Linked DNA regions of Homo sapiens. The protein of the gene in region 1 interacts with the protein of each later gene in a biochemical or structural test. Each region holds a gene or a part of one and is shown on either strand. Other genes may lie near its edges.

What was found. The genes of interacting proteins can lie anywhere in the genome.
Region 2: the proteins of TMED10 (region 1) and ARCN1 form a complex in vitro, tested with the Homo sapiens proteins (one study listed by BioGRID).
Region 3: the proteins of TMED10 (region 1) and COPG2 form a complex in vitro, tested with the Homo sapiens proteins (one study listed by BioGRID).
Region 4: the proteins of TMED10 (region 1) and COPA form a complex in vitro, tested with the Homo sapiens proteins (one study listed by BioGRID).

The regions. Positions count from the first base shown.
Region 1 is NC_000014.9:75,170,100-75,173,627, forward strand, and holds part of TMED10 (transmembrane emp24 domain-containing protein 10 precursor), read right to left. Parts: intron 1-3,528. UniProt on the Homo sapiens protein: Cargo receptor involved in protein vesicular trafficking and quality control in the endoplasmic reticulum (ER) and Golgi.
Region 2 is NC_000011.10:118,582,388-118,585,915, reverse strand, and holds part of ARCN1 (coatomer subunit delta), read right to left. Parts: intron 2,738-3,528; coding exon 2,558-2,737; intron 2,108-2,557; coding exon 1,902-2,107; intron 1,437-1,901; coding exon 1,272-1,436; intron 1-1,271. UniProt on the Homo sapiens protein: Component of the coatomer, a cytosolic protein complex that binds to dilysine motifs and reversibly associates with Golgi non-clathrin-coated vesicles, which further mediate biosynthetic protein transport from the ER, via the Golgi up to the trans Golgi network.
Region 3 is NC_000007.14:130,662,242-130,665,769, forward strand, and holds part of COPG2 (coatomer subunit gamma-2), read right to left. Parts: intron 798-3,528; coding exon 726-797; intron 1-725. UniProt on the Homo sapiens protein: The coatomer is a cytosolic protein complex that binds to dilysine motifs and reversibly associates with Golgi non-clathrin-coated vesicles, which further mediate biosynthetic protein transport from the ER, via the Golgi up to the trans Golgi network.
Region 4 is NC_000001.11:160,308,744-160,312,271, forward strand, and holds part of COPA (coatomer subunit alpha), read right to left. Parts: intron 3,276-3,528; coding exon 3,125-3,275; intron 1,516-3,124; coding exon 1,449-1,515; intron 434-1,448; coding exon 358-433; intron 1-357. UniProt on the Homo sapiens protein: The coatomer is a cytosolic protein complex that binds to dilysine motifs and reversibly associates with Golgi non-clathrin-coated vesicles, which further mediate biosynthetic protein transport from the ER, via the Golgi up to the trans Golgi network.

The DNA.
Region 1 (3,528 bases):
GCCTGTAGTCCCAGCTACTTGGGAGGCTGAGGCAGGAGAATGGTGTGAACCCCGGGGAGCAGAGCCTGCAGTGAGCCAAGATTGCACCACCGCACTGCAGCCTGGGTGAAAGCGAGACTCCATCTCAACAAAAAAAGAAAAAGTGGAACTAAGTGAACGGACACCATGAAAAAGACTGAAAGCCGCTATGGGCTGCATCTGCTCACAAATGTGTTCTGTGGCTTGCATGGTATATTACATTTTCAAAAATGACACCTAGCTTGTGGTCTCCAAATACCAATCCCCACAAAAAGGAACTAGAATTCCTTAGAGAAACAGTTGTTCTGAGGTCAGAGGATAGACATATACAAGATAAGCCTAGAACACTTTGTTGTGCCAGAAAACAAGGATGCTATCAAAACCTAACAGGATTATGTTGAAAAAATACAGGAGCCAATATGAAGGAACCAAAGGGACAAATTGGGCATAAAGAATGGAAACAACTGCCTAAAACACAATGATTCTAAAAGTTGAAGCCAACAATTAAAAAGAGTTCAGTAAAATACTTTAAAAAAAAACCCAAAAACTCTTGGACAACACTGAAAATGACAAGGGCAACAATTCCTTACTCTGACAATTATCAATTAGAAGAAATAAATTCTGCATTTATCCTACCAATGTGAATGATAAATTTTAGGATAATCAGATGATATTAATTCCTTAAGAATAATTTCAGCTAATAAATATGGAAGGAGTAACGGAATTAGAAAGTCATCATTTCACAACCTTAATGACATAATAAATGCACACAGTAGTCATCAGTGGATTCCTAAGTGAAAGGTTAATGGGAAACTTTACAATGAAGGCTTTGGGCTATTACCACCCGGGTAGAGAAAAAAATGCCTCCCACACACAAAGATGTCCACATCCTAATCCCTAGAACCCACGAATGTGTTATCTTACATGGCAAAAGGGATTGTGCAGATGTGATTAAATCAGATTAAGGGTCTTGAGGTGGAGAAGATTATCACAAGGGTCCTTATAAGGGAACGAGGGAGGCAGGTGAGTAAGAGAATGAGATGAGATGATGATAGCCGGGGAAGGAGGGAGGAAGAGAGGAAGAAGGGGTGGTGAGGAACAAAGCAGAGGATGGAAAAGGGAAGGAAAGGGAGAGAGTTAAAGATACTATGCTACTGGCTTTAATTTTTTTTTTTTTTTTGAGACAAAGTCTCGCTCTGTCACCCAGGCTGGAGTGCCGTGGCACGATCTCGGCTCACTACAATCTCCGCCTCCCAGGTTCAAGCGATTCCCCTGCCTCAGTCTCCTGAGTAGCTGGGACTACAGGTGTGCACCACCATGCCCAGCTAATTTTTGTATGTTTGGTGAAGACGGGGTTTCACCATGTTGGCCAGGCTGGTCTCAAACTCCTAACCTTCAGTGATTTGCCCGCCTTGGCCTCCCAAAGCGTTGGGATTACAGACGAGAGCCACCGCGCCCAGCCTGGCTTTAAAGATGGAGGAAGGAGATATGAGCCAAAGAATACAAGTGGCTTCTAGAAGCTAGAAAGGGCAAGAAAACTGATCCCCACCCCACTCCCAAAAAGTCTCCAGAAGAAACATGGCTCTGCCAAAACCCTGATTTTAGGACTTCTGACCTTCAGAACGATTAAGACAAATCCCTGATGTTTTAGGCCATAAATCTGTGGTAATTTGTTACAGCAGCAATAGGACACTAAGACACACCTTAATCCACTTATCAATCTTAGCAGCAGCAATAAGGGGCACAAAAAGTACTGTGTGTTCCTGCAGTGACACCCTCGACAGAAAGATTAAACCTGAATCTGGTTACATCTTTTTTTTTTTTTTTACACTTTAAGTTCTGGAGGGGTACATGTGCAGAACGTGCAGGTTTGTTACATAGGTATACGTGTGCCATGGTGGTTTGCTGAACCTCTGGTTACATCTTTACAGCTGATTCCTTTTACAAAAAATATAGTGGAAGAACTGGTTAAAAGACACCTCTAGGAAGCAAAAGACAACTCCGAAATGCTGTACATTCTTTTAAGAGCAATTGACTCCAACAATTCAATTGCAAGGATAAAAAAGGAGGTGAGAGGAAGAGGAGACTGCTCTAGATTAGACACTTGAGAGAGACAACAAATTAACTTTCAAAAGATATTTTTGAGACAAGTGGGATCATACTATATGGACTGGGTATCAAGGAATCATTGTTCTTTTTTTTTTTTTGGAGACAGAGTCTCACTCTGTAGCCCAGGTAGGAGTGCAGTGGCACAATCATACTTCACTGCAACTTCCGCCTCCCAGGTTCAAGAGATTCTCCTGCCTCAGCCTAGAGCAGCTGGGATTACAGATGTGTGCCACCACGCCCAGCTAATTTTTTTTTAAATTTTTAGTAGAGACGGGGTTTCACCGTGTTGGTCAGGCTGGTCTCGAACTCCTGACCTCGTGATTCGCCCACCTCGGCCTCCCAAAGTGCTGGGATTACAGGCATGAGCCACCGCGCCTGGCCATCATTGTTCATTTTGTGAGGCGTGATTAGCCACGTAACATTGTGGTTTATATTTTTAAAGAGATGCATGCTGAAGTAGGCAGGAATGAAATACATGACATCTGGGATTTACTTTAATACAATTTAGCATGAAATGATATGGCAGAAGCAGTTAAGATGACACGTGTGGAAAGATCCTGATAATTGGTGAATATGAGTAATGGGTAGAAAGGTGAACTCACTATACTATTCCCTATAACACTGAAAACAAATCAATGCCCGAACCAATCTGAATTGGCTGGTGAAATTTTTTTTTTTTAATTTTTAGGGGGCCAAACCATTTTATTGAGGAAAATGGAGTGGCAAAGCAGTGGTGAGGACAATGAGATCCATGGCCCTCGGGTGGGCCGGGAGCTCCCAAGCTCTGCAGTGCTGAAACCTGGCTGATGAAATTTAAAAGTCTGGAGCTTTCACATCAAAATCTGGTGTTCCTATTTCATTTGAAAAATCAGATGTGGGCTAGGTGCAATGGCTCATGCCTGTAATCCGAGCACTTTGGGAGGCCGAGATGGGCGGATCACTTGAGCCCAGGAGTTCGAGACCAGCCTGGGTAACATGGCGAAACTCCATTTCTACAAACAAATATGAAAACTAGCCGGATATGGTGGCATGTGCCTGTAATCCCAGCTACTCAGGAGCCTGAAGTAGGAGGATCACCTGGGCCCTGAGGAGGTCAAGGCTGCAGTGAGCTGTGATGGTGCCACTGGAGGGAGGGAGGGAGAGAGGGAGGAAGAAAGGAAGGAAGGGAAGGAAGAGGGGAGGGGAGGGGAAGGGAAAAATCAGATGTGGCAAAAAGGCCCACATGCTTGCATGGCAAGTCTCATCAAGAACTAAGTATTGGTCACCCCTAATTAACAGTTTCTACTACGTCCAATTATTCTCCCATTTATCATCACTGCTTTTTTTTTTAAAATACCTGGTCCAATTTATTCAATGATATTACCTATTTGGCATTTGGGTTTAGGACCCTTGTGGTTCCAT
Region 2 (3,528 bases), on another chromosome or scaffold:
ACCAGTACCACAGCCCTGAGATAAGAGATGAATCAAAATATTCCATACTGGCTTCAAATATTTAAACTGCAAAAGATGGCTGGGCATGGTGGCTGACGCCTGTAATCCCAGTACTTTGTGAGGCCGAGGCAGGCAGATTGCTTGAGTCCAGGAGTTCGAGACCAGCCTGGGCAACAAGGCAAAACCCCATCTCTACCAAAATACAGAAATTAGCCCAGCGTGGTGGTGCATGCCTGTAGTCCCAGCTACTTGGGAGGCTGAGGTGGGAGAATCACTTGAACCTGGGAGGCAGAGGTTGCAACAAGCTGAGATTGCACCACTGTACTCCAGCCTGGGTGACAGAGTGAAACCCCATCTCAAAAAAATAAATAAATAAAATAAAAATGCAAAATATATTAATTTGCTATTAAAGATATCTACAAGTTTTGGATTAAAGATTGGTTCTACTTAGACTTTAATTAGAAAAAGTCATGCCAAAATACAGTGTGGGGTCACCATAGCTCTAGTCCCCTAATTCAAGTGCATTCTAAGAGATACGCTATATACCAGGTGTGACTACAAGTAACTTTAATTTAGCTGTAAAAGGAAAGTTCTAAACTTCATAGAAAATAGGTGGCTGAGGGCCCCCAATCATGGTTTAAGGAAAAAGGAAAAGGTCAGGTGCAGCAACGCATGCCTGTATCCCAGTTACTTGGGAGGCTGAGGCAGGAAGATTAACTGAGCTCAGGAGTTGGAGGCCAGCCTAGACAACATAGTAAGACCCTGTCTCAAAAAAATAAAACAAAACAACAGCCGGGCGTGGTGGCTCACGCCTGTAATCCCAGCACTTCGGGAGGCTGAGTCAGGCGGATCACAAGGTCAGGAGATCGAGACCATTCTGGCTAACACGGCGAAACCCCATCTCTACTAAAAATACAAAAAAATTAGCCGGGCGTAGGGGTGGGCGCCTGTGGTCCCAGCTACTCGGGAGGCTGAGGCAGGAGAATGGCGTGAACCTGGGAGGGAGAGCTTGCAGCGAGCCGAGATCACACCACTGCACTCCAGCCTGGGTGACAGAGTGAGACTCCATCTCAAAAAAAAATAAGTAAATAAAACAAAACAAAACCAAAAACGATCTTATGTTAATATGTAGAATCTGCTCTGAATAAATCTTTTAAATCAGGAACGATTAAAAGACAGAGAAAGAATTTATAGCACACTGAAATAAGATTTTTAAAAAATTATGTGGACTGTATTCAAAGCTTGAATTCTTACTCAAAGTTCCTACTTACCTTTCCATATTAATGGGTGGAGCATGCATTTTGGTTGCTTCAGAAGTACGCTTGCCCATACTAGAGGACATGATGGTTTCACCTTCAGATTTTAATTTGTCCACAAAGTTATCTACTTCCTTTCCTTTGGCTCCAAGTTTTAAAGCCTTGCTGGGGCCTGAAGGCCTAAGTGGAAGAATTTGAAATTCATTACCCAAAGGTTTATTTTTACAAGCACACATGATCTGATGAAAATTTTGTATCTCCCGTCCAGAGAAATACACCTGTGCACAAAATTTTGTATATAATTTTGGGTAATTCACAGATTTCCCCTAAAATCAATCAATGAACATCAAGATTAAAAATCTACATTCCATAAAGCATTAAATAGCCCTTTCCTCCCCACAATAAGGCAACTCTCATAGGAAACTGAGGTCATGACATAATTTATAACTCTCTTTTATACAAAAGGAAAAACACCACATTCAGATTTCTTCTTTATCCTCATATTGTATGTGGCCAAATGTAACATCATATCTTACTTCATCAAGTCCTTCTTTATTTACAGCTTTCCAAGAAATCAGATTATGACTTCAAAGATAGACACATATACACCCTTCACCTGGTATTCTAAAGTACACTGGATTATACCTGGCTGGTGCAGGTGCCACTTTTGGTTTATCAGTTTCAATGATGGTCTCTGTGATCATGGCAGCTGTGCTGCCTCCAGATACTGCAGAGCTGCCAAATCCGCCAAATCCTGGTGCTTTTTTGCCCTGTCTCTCTGCATCTCTTCGGGCCTGTTGTAATTCCTTTGCTTTACGACGCATCTCAGCCTTAGCTTCACGTTCTTGAGTCTACAGAAAAAGACATACATTAATGTAGCTTTTTTTTTTGGGTTTTTGTTGAGACAGGGTCTCACTCTGTGACCCAGGCTGGAGTGCAAGTGGCACAATCACAGCTCACTGCAGCCTCAACTTCCTGGGCTCAAGTGATCCTCCCATCTCAGCCTCCCAAGTAGCTGGGACCCACATGCACGTGCTACCATGCCTGGCTAATTTTTTTTTTACTTTTTATAGAGACAGGGTCTCACTACGCTGTCCAGTCTGGTCTTGAACTCCTGGACTCAAGTGATACTCCCACTTCCGCCTCCCAAAGTGCTGAGATTACAGACATGAGCCACTGTGCCTAGCCTGGACATAGTTTTGAATACAGTCTACATTAGTAAGTAAAAATAGGAAAATGAGATTAGTGAAGCCTAAGAGAAAGACATACAAACAGGTAGTCCCAGAGAAGATCCTATTTACCTCTCTGACGGCTCTGAACACCTTCTCCTCATGAGAATCCATTTCTGTGAAGGTTCTGATCTGTGCCAAGTTAACATTCTCCCGGTATCCCAGTGCGACAATTTCATCAAAAGCAAAAATCAAATCAAAACAGTGCTCAGATATTTCATTCTCTTCTAAGGCTCGGCAATATTCAGGGATCTAAGCGTGGACACCAATAAAAAAGAAAGATTTAGAATTTATCAGCAGCTATATTTCCAAGTCTTATCCTTTAGAGTACATAAATTTCAATAACCTAAATCCCTTTATTAGCTACTTCTAGTCTTTATTTTATTTTTTGGGACAGAGTCTCGCTCTGCTGCCCACGCTGGAGTGCAGTGGTGCCATCTCGGCTCACTGCAACCTCCATCTCCTGGGTTTAAGTGATTCTCCTGCCTCAGCTTCCGGAGTAGCTGGGACTACAGGTGTGTACCACCACGCCCAGCTAATTTTTGTATTTTTAGTAGAGACGGGGTTTCACCATGTTGGCCAGGCTGGTGTTGAACTCCTGACCTCAGGTGATCCGCTTGCCTCAGTCTCCCAAACTGCTGGGATTACAGGCGTGAGCCACTGCGCCCAGCCTAACTCCCTGATTTTTTTTTTTTTTTTTTTTTTAAGACAAAGTCTAACTCTGTCACCCGGTCTGGAGTGCAGTGGCACGATCTCGGCTCACTGCAACCCCCACCTCCTGGGTTCACGCAATTCTCATGCCTCAGCCTCCTGAGTAGTAGGATTATGGGTGCCCGCCACCATGCCCAGCTAATTTTTTTGTATTTTGAGTAGAGACGAGGTTTCACCACGTTGGTCAGGCTGGTCTCAAACTTCTGACCTCAGGTGATCCACCCGCCTCAGCCTCCCAAAGTGCTGGGATTACAAGCGTGAGCCACCACGCCCAAGACCCTGATTCTTACAGCCGGGTGCAGCGGCTCATGCCTGTAATCCCAGCACTTCGG
Region 3 (3,528 bases), on another chromosome or scaffold:
ACCTCTCATTATTTAGATCCATAACAAGACTCAAATCTCAAGAGGTTCTGGGGGTTGACACAAAATGTGACATGTGATGATATGCAATACATACCAAAAAACTGCAGGATTTGGCCAATTTATGTTAATGGAAAGCTGGAAAATACATATCCCAGAATTACCTTCCCTGTATGGTTCTGCCTTAGAGCTAGGCAAAAGAAAAATGTACACAACACTTAGAAGACAGACAAAAAGCAGCAGCTGTATGTTCTGAAGGTCAGGGTGGCCTAAGGTAATGAGAGGCAGGTTTAGTTTGTACTCATTTTTCTTTTTCCTTATTCTATTCCTTATTCCCCTTCCCCACTCCACATCCAGCTCTTCTTCTCAACTGCCAGCACTGCTGACTAACAGCAATCCCAGGCCCACCAGAAACTTGACTAAGAACTGACAAATGTGGTAGCTATGTGCACTGACTTCTTTATCAGTCCACCTTCACAGTGTCATGCCAGAAGCTAGGTATTAACAGTCTTTATGACTTCACGGTAGATCTGCAGGGAAAAGTTTTACACTGCATACTTTAATTCTTCCATTTTCACGTCTTATAATGAATATTTATAAGTTTTATAAGCAGTTAAATAATTTAAAACATTTCAAGCAATGCTCCCTAATTTAGAACACTCTTAGTTCCCTGGGGAAAATAAATAAAAGGAGGTTTTTCATCGTAAAAAAAATTTAAAAAGACTTACATCATTAGATTGAAACAATCGCGTCATTGCAAAGAAGGCTTCTGTAGCTTCCGTTGTTCCAAAGTGTTCACCCTAAGTAAAATTTAAAACAATTTTTAAATTTTAAAAAGTGTATATTCATATATATGTACATATACACACACAGGATTTTCTATTTCTGCAAAAATCCTTTAGAACTCAAGAAAAAAGAATCTCTTTGTAAACATTCTGCCTCTGCAATTTTTCTGGCTTTCAATGCATAAACCCACATAGCCATTTATCCCCCCTTATTTAAAATAATTCAGTATCGCATACCATGCTTAAAAGTTCTGGCATAGTGATCTCTAAACTTTTAGTAGAAAGTATCTGAAATTTTCCTGAAGTATTGTAGTTTACAAGGAGGGAGAAAATTACAGCACTCACAATAGGACATTATTATTACACTGCCTAAGAGCAGAGATCATATCTATAATGCCCAGCACAATGCCTAACATGTCATGGGAGCATAATAAATATTAAAATATAAGGAACTATCTATTCAGAATCTCAGCAAAATGGCAAGAAGGGGACCAACCAAAAGGGCAGGAACCAGATTCATCATATTAAAAAACTAGGCTTAAGGGGCTGCTATGTAGCTCAATATTGGTTCAAGCCCCTAAAAACATGCTTTGGATCAGAGCTTCAAACAGTTTAATGAGCATGACAATTCATCCTGGGATCTTGCCAAAATGCAGATTCTGATTCAGTGGCTCTGGGGTAAAGCCTGAGATTTTGCATTTCTTTTCTTTTTTTTTTTTTTTTTTTTTTTTTTGAGACGGAGTCTCACCCTGTTGCTCAGGTTGGAGTGCAATGGCGCAATCTTGGCTCACTGCAACCTCCACCTCCTGGGTTCAAGTGATTCTCCTGCCTCAGCCTCCCAAGTAGCTGTGATTACAGGTGTGCACCACCACGCCCAACTAATTTTTTGTTATCTTTAGTAGAGACGGGGTTTCACCATGTTGGCCAGGCTGGTCTTGAACTCCTGACCTCGTGATCCACCTGCCTCGGCCTCCCAAAGTGCTGGGATTACAGGCTTGAGCCACTGCGCCTGGCCTGAGATTTGGCATTTCTAACAAGTGATGCAAATGCTGATCTGGGAACTACATTTTCTGAGCAGTGAAAAAGTGTTAGATAACGTATTTCAAAACATCTCAAATCATAGATTACCTCAAATATTACCATTTCAATATTTAATGTCTTCACTAAAAGCAATCTTATATAATACGTTACACTCAATCACTTTTCAGAGCTTCAGATTCCACATAAAATATAACTAGTCTTCAATCTATTTGCCATAGGTATAAGAATAAATTTTGGTGAAAAATACTGACAGTTTAGGATAAAAGACAAAGTACAATAAGTTTATACTTACTTAAATCAGTGTATCCAGCCTGCTCATCAGCATGAGATTTATCTTTCTTTCACAACTATTTACTGAATACCCAGAAGTCTGTGTGCTTTTTAGTTATACAGGAAAACCTTACATCCTACTTTTTTACTTGAAACTCAGAAAACACATGGATATGTCAACTCTCATAGAAATTCAAAAGTATCTTTCTATAAAGCTCTACCAAGTTCTAGGCAAAGAGATAAAATTTATGTTCCCAAACCTGTTTATATAGTTAATTGTGTTTATGCTGTGCTTGGTAATTTCCTTATCAAGATAATTAAATGTTTCAACATGAGTTGCCTCATTGAAGAGGTAATGACCAACATAAAAATACATGTTACTCTCAATCAACTTTGACTATTCAAAACTTTTGTTTATACAATGGATTTGGCCAACTTAGACACAATGTGTGCTATGAAAAGTTAAACCCAATTGACTATGCTTTAAATGTTTCTCATATGCTGACACAGAGGGATTATGTTGTTTGTGAACAGATATATTTTATTTAAAACTATGTGTTTGATGATCAGGCACAGTAGCTCACACCTGTAATCCCAGGACTTTGGGAAGCTGAGGTGGGCGGATCACCTAAGGTCAGGAGTTTGAGACCCACCTGGCCAATATGGTGAAACCCCGTCTCTACTAAAAATATAAAAATTAGCCAGGCGTGGTGGTGCATGCCTGTAATCCCAGCTACTCAGGAGGCTAAAGTAGGAGAATTGCTTGAACCAGGGAGGTGGAGGTTGTAGTGAGCCGAGATTGCGCCACTGCACTCCAGCCTGGTAACAGAGCGAGACTCCATCTCAAAAAATAAAAAAAATCTATGTGCTTGTTGCTTAGTCTTCATTTGTAAACAAGAAAACTTTATTAAATCTCTGAGTGAGGTCTTCAGTCACAAAACAAAGTAAAGATAATATATTCTCTTAGAATTCAAATTGGAAACCATGGTTATCTTAGCACCATATGTAAACCACCTGAGGTATATGGTATATATGTATGTTTTATGTGTCCGTCTGTATGTGTATAGACATATATAGTCAGCCCTCCATAACCATGAGTTCTGAATCTGTGGATTCAACCAGGCTCAGATTGAAAATATTCAAGGAAAAAAAAAACTATGTTTGTACTGAACACGTACAGATGGTTTTTTGTCATTATTCCCTAAACAATACAGCACAACAACTATTTACACAGCACTAACATTGCACCAGGTATTGTAATCTAGAGATTATAGTCTAAGTATTATAATCACAGAGACAACTTATATATGGGAGGATATGTGTAGGTTATATGCAAATACTACACCATTTGTATGAGGGACTTGAGCATCTATGGACTTTAGTATCCAATGGAGGTCCTGGAACCAATTCCCCACTGATACTGAGGGAATATGAA
Region 4 (3,528 bases), on another chromosome or scaffold:
TCCCAGGATGAGGCATTATAAGATTGGAACCACATTTTTAAATAAATGAAACTACCAGGGTGAAAGTCATATCAACTGACAATAAACTAGGATAACATGCTGTGCTGAAAGAGAGAATGGAGAGTTTCTAATAACCAAATTATAAAATATATATATCTAGCTGGGGTAATAAAATGGAGGAGGAACATGAATATTTCACACCATGGTCGCCTCTGATGCAATTGTCAGCAGCACCTGCCAACAGACATGAGTGATGTGGCCATGGCTTGGGGATGGAATGTGAAAAACTTGAAGAGGAGTTATGATGCGGGTGAGGAGAGCTGGAAGCAGAGTGGGGTAGACAAAAAGAACACTTACCATCAGGATTCTGGGAGTCAGCATCTTTAGGGATGGTGTACAGGTCATAGGTACTATTCTCTAGATTGCTAGCTCTCTGTAGAAGAAAAGGGGAAATTAAAATGTTAGTGAGAAGCACCCAAGATACCAGTTTTCCAATTTACTCTGACAGAGAAAACAGTTCCATTGCACAGACACCAATCTGAAACCATACTTTTCTTACCCTTCACCCAGAGGGCATTTGACTGTTTCTACATCTATGAGTTATAGGGCTCTTTGCCAAACACATCAGCACTGATGTCACTTTATTTTCTTTATCCTCCAAAGATGCAGATATTATCTGAATGAAAGTAAGAAATGCTCTCTACTCCACAAATTAACAGACTAGGACCCTGATATTCTGGTACCCCACCCTGAGGACTCATCAACTGAGTACTCAACCTCTGGAAAGGAAAAAAAAAAGACATCAAAGAAAAGACACTATAGGAATGCAAATGTTTATTGGAAAAAGAAGAAAAGAAAAAACACTCAAGAAAACTCAGAGTATGGGACTACTAGATATTAAAGAAGAACAGATTAGACAATATAGTTATATGAGGAAAGACATTTAACTTCATTCCTTTTAACTTGGCCACGAGGGCACTAAAATTAGAATGTCATTTCTTTTTTTTTTTTTTTTGCAAATTCTGTTGCAAGAAACAGAGAGGAGTCATTGATGACTCTGAAGCCAACCCCACTGATATGAACTTCCTCTCAAAATAATAGTTCTTCTATTTTCACCCAAAGGAAGGGATCAAGGTAAACATTTTCTTTCCATAGGAAATATATATATATAGTCTAAACATTCTCTCAAATTATTTCTAGTGATCTGGGTCATTCATTCTGATGCTCCATTAAGTTCAGCTTTAGGAAAGATAGGCAGTTCACAAATGCTCAATATGTTTACGACAACTGAAACCTACCTGATTTGAGTCTCTGAGTGATCACTGTGTCAGCTCTCACAAAATGACCATTAAATAGTTTCTAAGAAGCCATTAAAGATTCCCTAAGGGCATAAGAAAGAGACCTATGGAAAATGAGGAGAACCTAGGAGGGCTCCACAGGTTACTTACTGTACAAAGCAGGACTGCATTTTCTGCTGGATTGTATGACATATTGAATACTGGAAACTTGGAACCACTAGAGATATATATAGAAAAAGGAGAAAACAGGGAAGAGGCATAAGAATAGAAGGAAGAAAGGAATCACCCCCACACCTCCTACTTATCCAATCTTTACACTATATACTCATCACTTTTATAATCAGGAATAAAATGAATAAATATTGTATTCTCTTCCTTTAAGGCTTGGCAACTTCCCTAGCTCAGCTTTGAACAAACAGTTTTAAAAAGTAAGCCATAGTAGAAGTCAAATTATTCAACAGAAGGTAGGTAGGGTTAACACTCACTGTAGTGAGTGGGACTGGTTCTGCTTGGATACAAATTCCTACACGTAATTGCAGTGGACACCACAGAGTAACATAATGTGATTTGTCTCTGGCTGGTTTCTCCTGTCCCTTGGAGTATTCACATAAACCCATTTTTTTATTGTAATGATGCTAAAGGGTGGTTATCAAAACCTCATTCCAAATTTTGCCACCATGAATGTTTCAGCATGCTGATGCAGCTGGCTTTTCAAAAGGACAGGTCCTTTTGCCAGGCATCCCAGAGGTTATTGTATCTTCAGAATTAAGAGTTTCCAGGGACATATATTCTGGTTCAGAGTTGTGCACTTTTTGCTGGAAGGCAAGGGAGAGTTAAAGAAAAGAAATGCCAAACAAAGGCGAAAAGTTCTGTTACCAGTTTGGGCCATTCTCTATCAAGAAACTTCCTCTGGCTTGCAAGAGACCCAGCAAATTGTGGCAGAATGATTTTCCATCCACAAGGTCACTAGCATTCTCAAGAAGGGAACTATCATTCTACTCATGACCACTTCCTTGCCTCCCTCACTCATTGGGTTTAAACTGAGCGGGCTCATCTAATGGGGATTCCATCTGTGACAGAATACGAGATCCAAAATGTCATTTAAAAGAAGAGTCTTGGTTGGGTGCGGTGGCTCACGCCTGCAATCCCAGAACTTTGGGAGGCCGAGGTGGGCGGATCACAAGGTCAGGAGTTCGAGGCCAGCCTGACCAACACAGCGAAACCCCGTCTCTACTCAAAATACAAAATTAGCCAGGTGTGGTGGTGCACACCTGTAATCCCAGCTACTTGGGAGACTGAGGCAGGAGAATTGCTTGAACCCAGGAGGTGGAGGTTGCAGTGAGCTGAGGTTGCATCACTGCGCTCCAGCCTGGGTGACAGAGTGAGACTCCATCTCAAAAAAAAAAAATTTAAAAATAAATAAATAGGCTGGGCGCGGTGGCTCACGCCTGTAATCCCAGCACTTTGGGAGGCCAAGCCAGGCAGATCATGAGGTCAGGAGATTGAGACCATCCTGGCTAACATGGTGAAACCGTCTCTACTAAAAAATACAAAAAATTAGCCAGGCGTGGTGGCGGGCGCCTGTAGTCCCAGTACTTGGGAGGCTGAGGCAGGAGAATGGTGTGAACCCGGGAGGCGGAGCTTGCAGTGAGCCGAGATCGCGCCACTGCACTCCAGCCTGGGCGACAAAGCGAGACTCCGTCTCAAAAAAAAATTAAATAAATAAAATAAATAAATGAAAGAAAGAAAAGAAGAGTCTTGTTTGTGGGAGTTGTATCAGGGTGACAGATGAGAGGGTTTGGAGGAAAGAAACAAGTCCGATTTACCTCCGCAACTGCATCACAGCTACATCTTTGGAGCTGTTGAAATCCAGCTGTCGTAAGAATCGGTCCTTGACATAGTGTAGCATATTGCCATGAACAGCATAGGCTGGCCGTTCCCGTTCCAGCTTAAACACAATCATACCACCATCATGGCCTGGGGGACAGGGAGAGGAGGAGAAAAAATTAAGCTGTAGGCAAGAAAAAAACCTGGAAATTGGAGATACGTAAGGATGAAGATTATATCTGTAAGACAAGACACCTGAATGCATCCCTTATTTGCCTAAATTCTCACAATTCTTGGAATCTTTATTTAAATAATTCTCTGTGAATCCTTTCCTAATACTATTCACACTGCCACACTTAGTGTCACTATCCACACTGCCCTTTTCTGTGTTCCCCTAATGCTT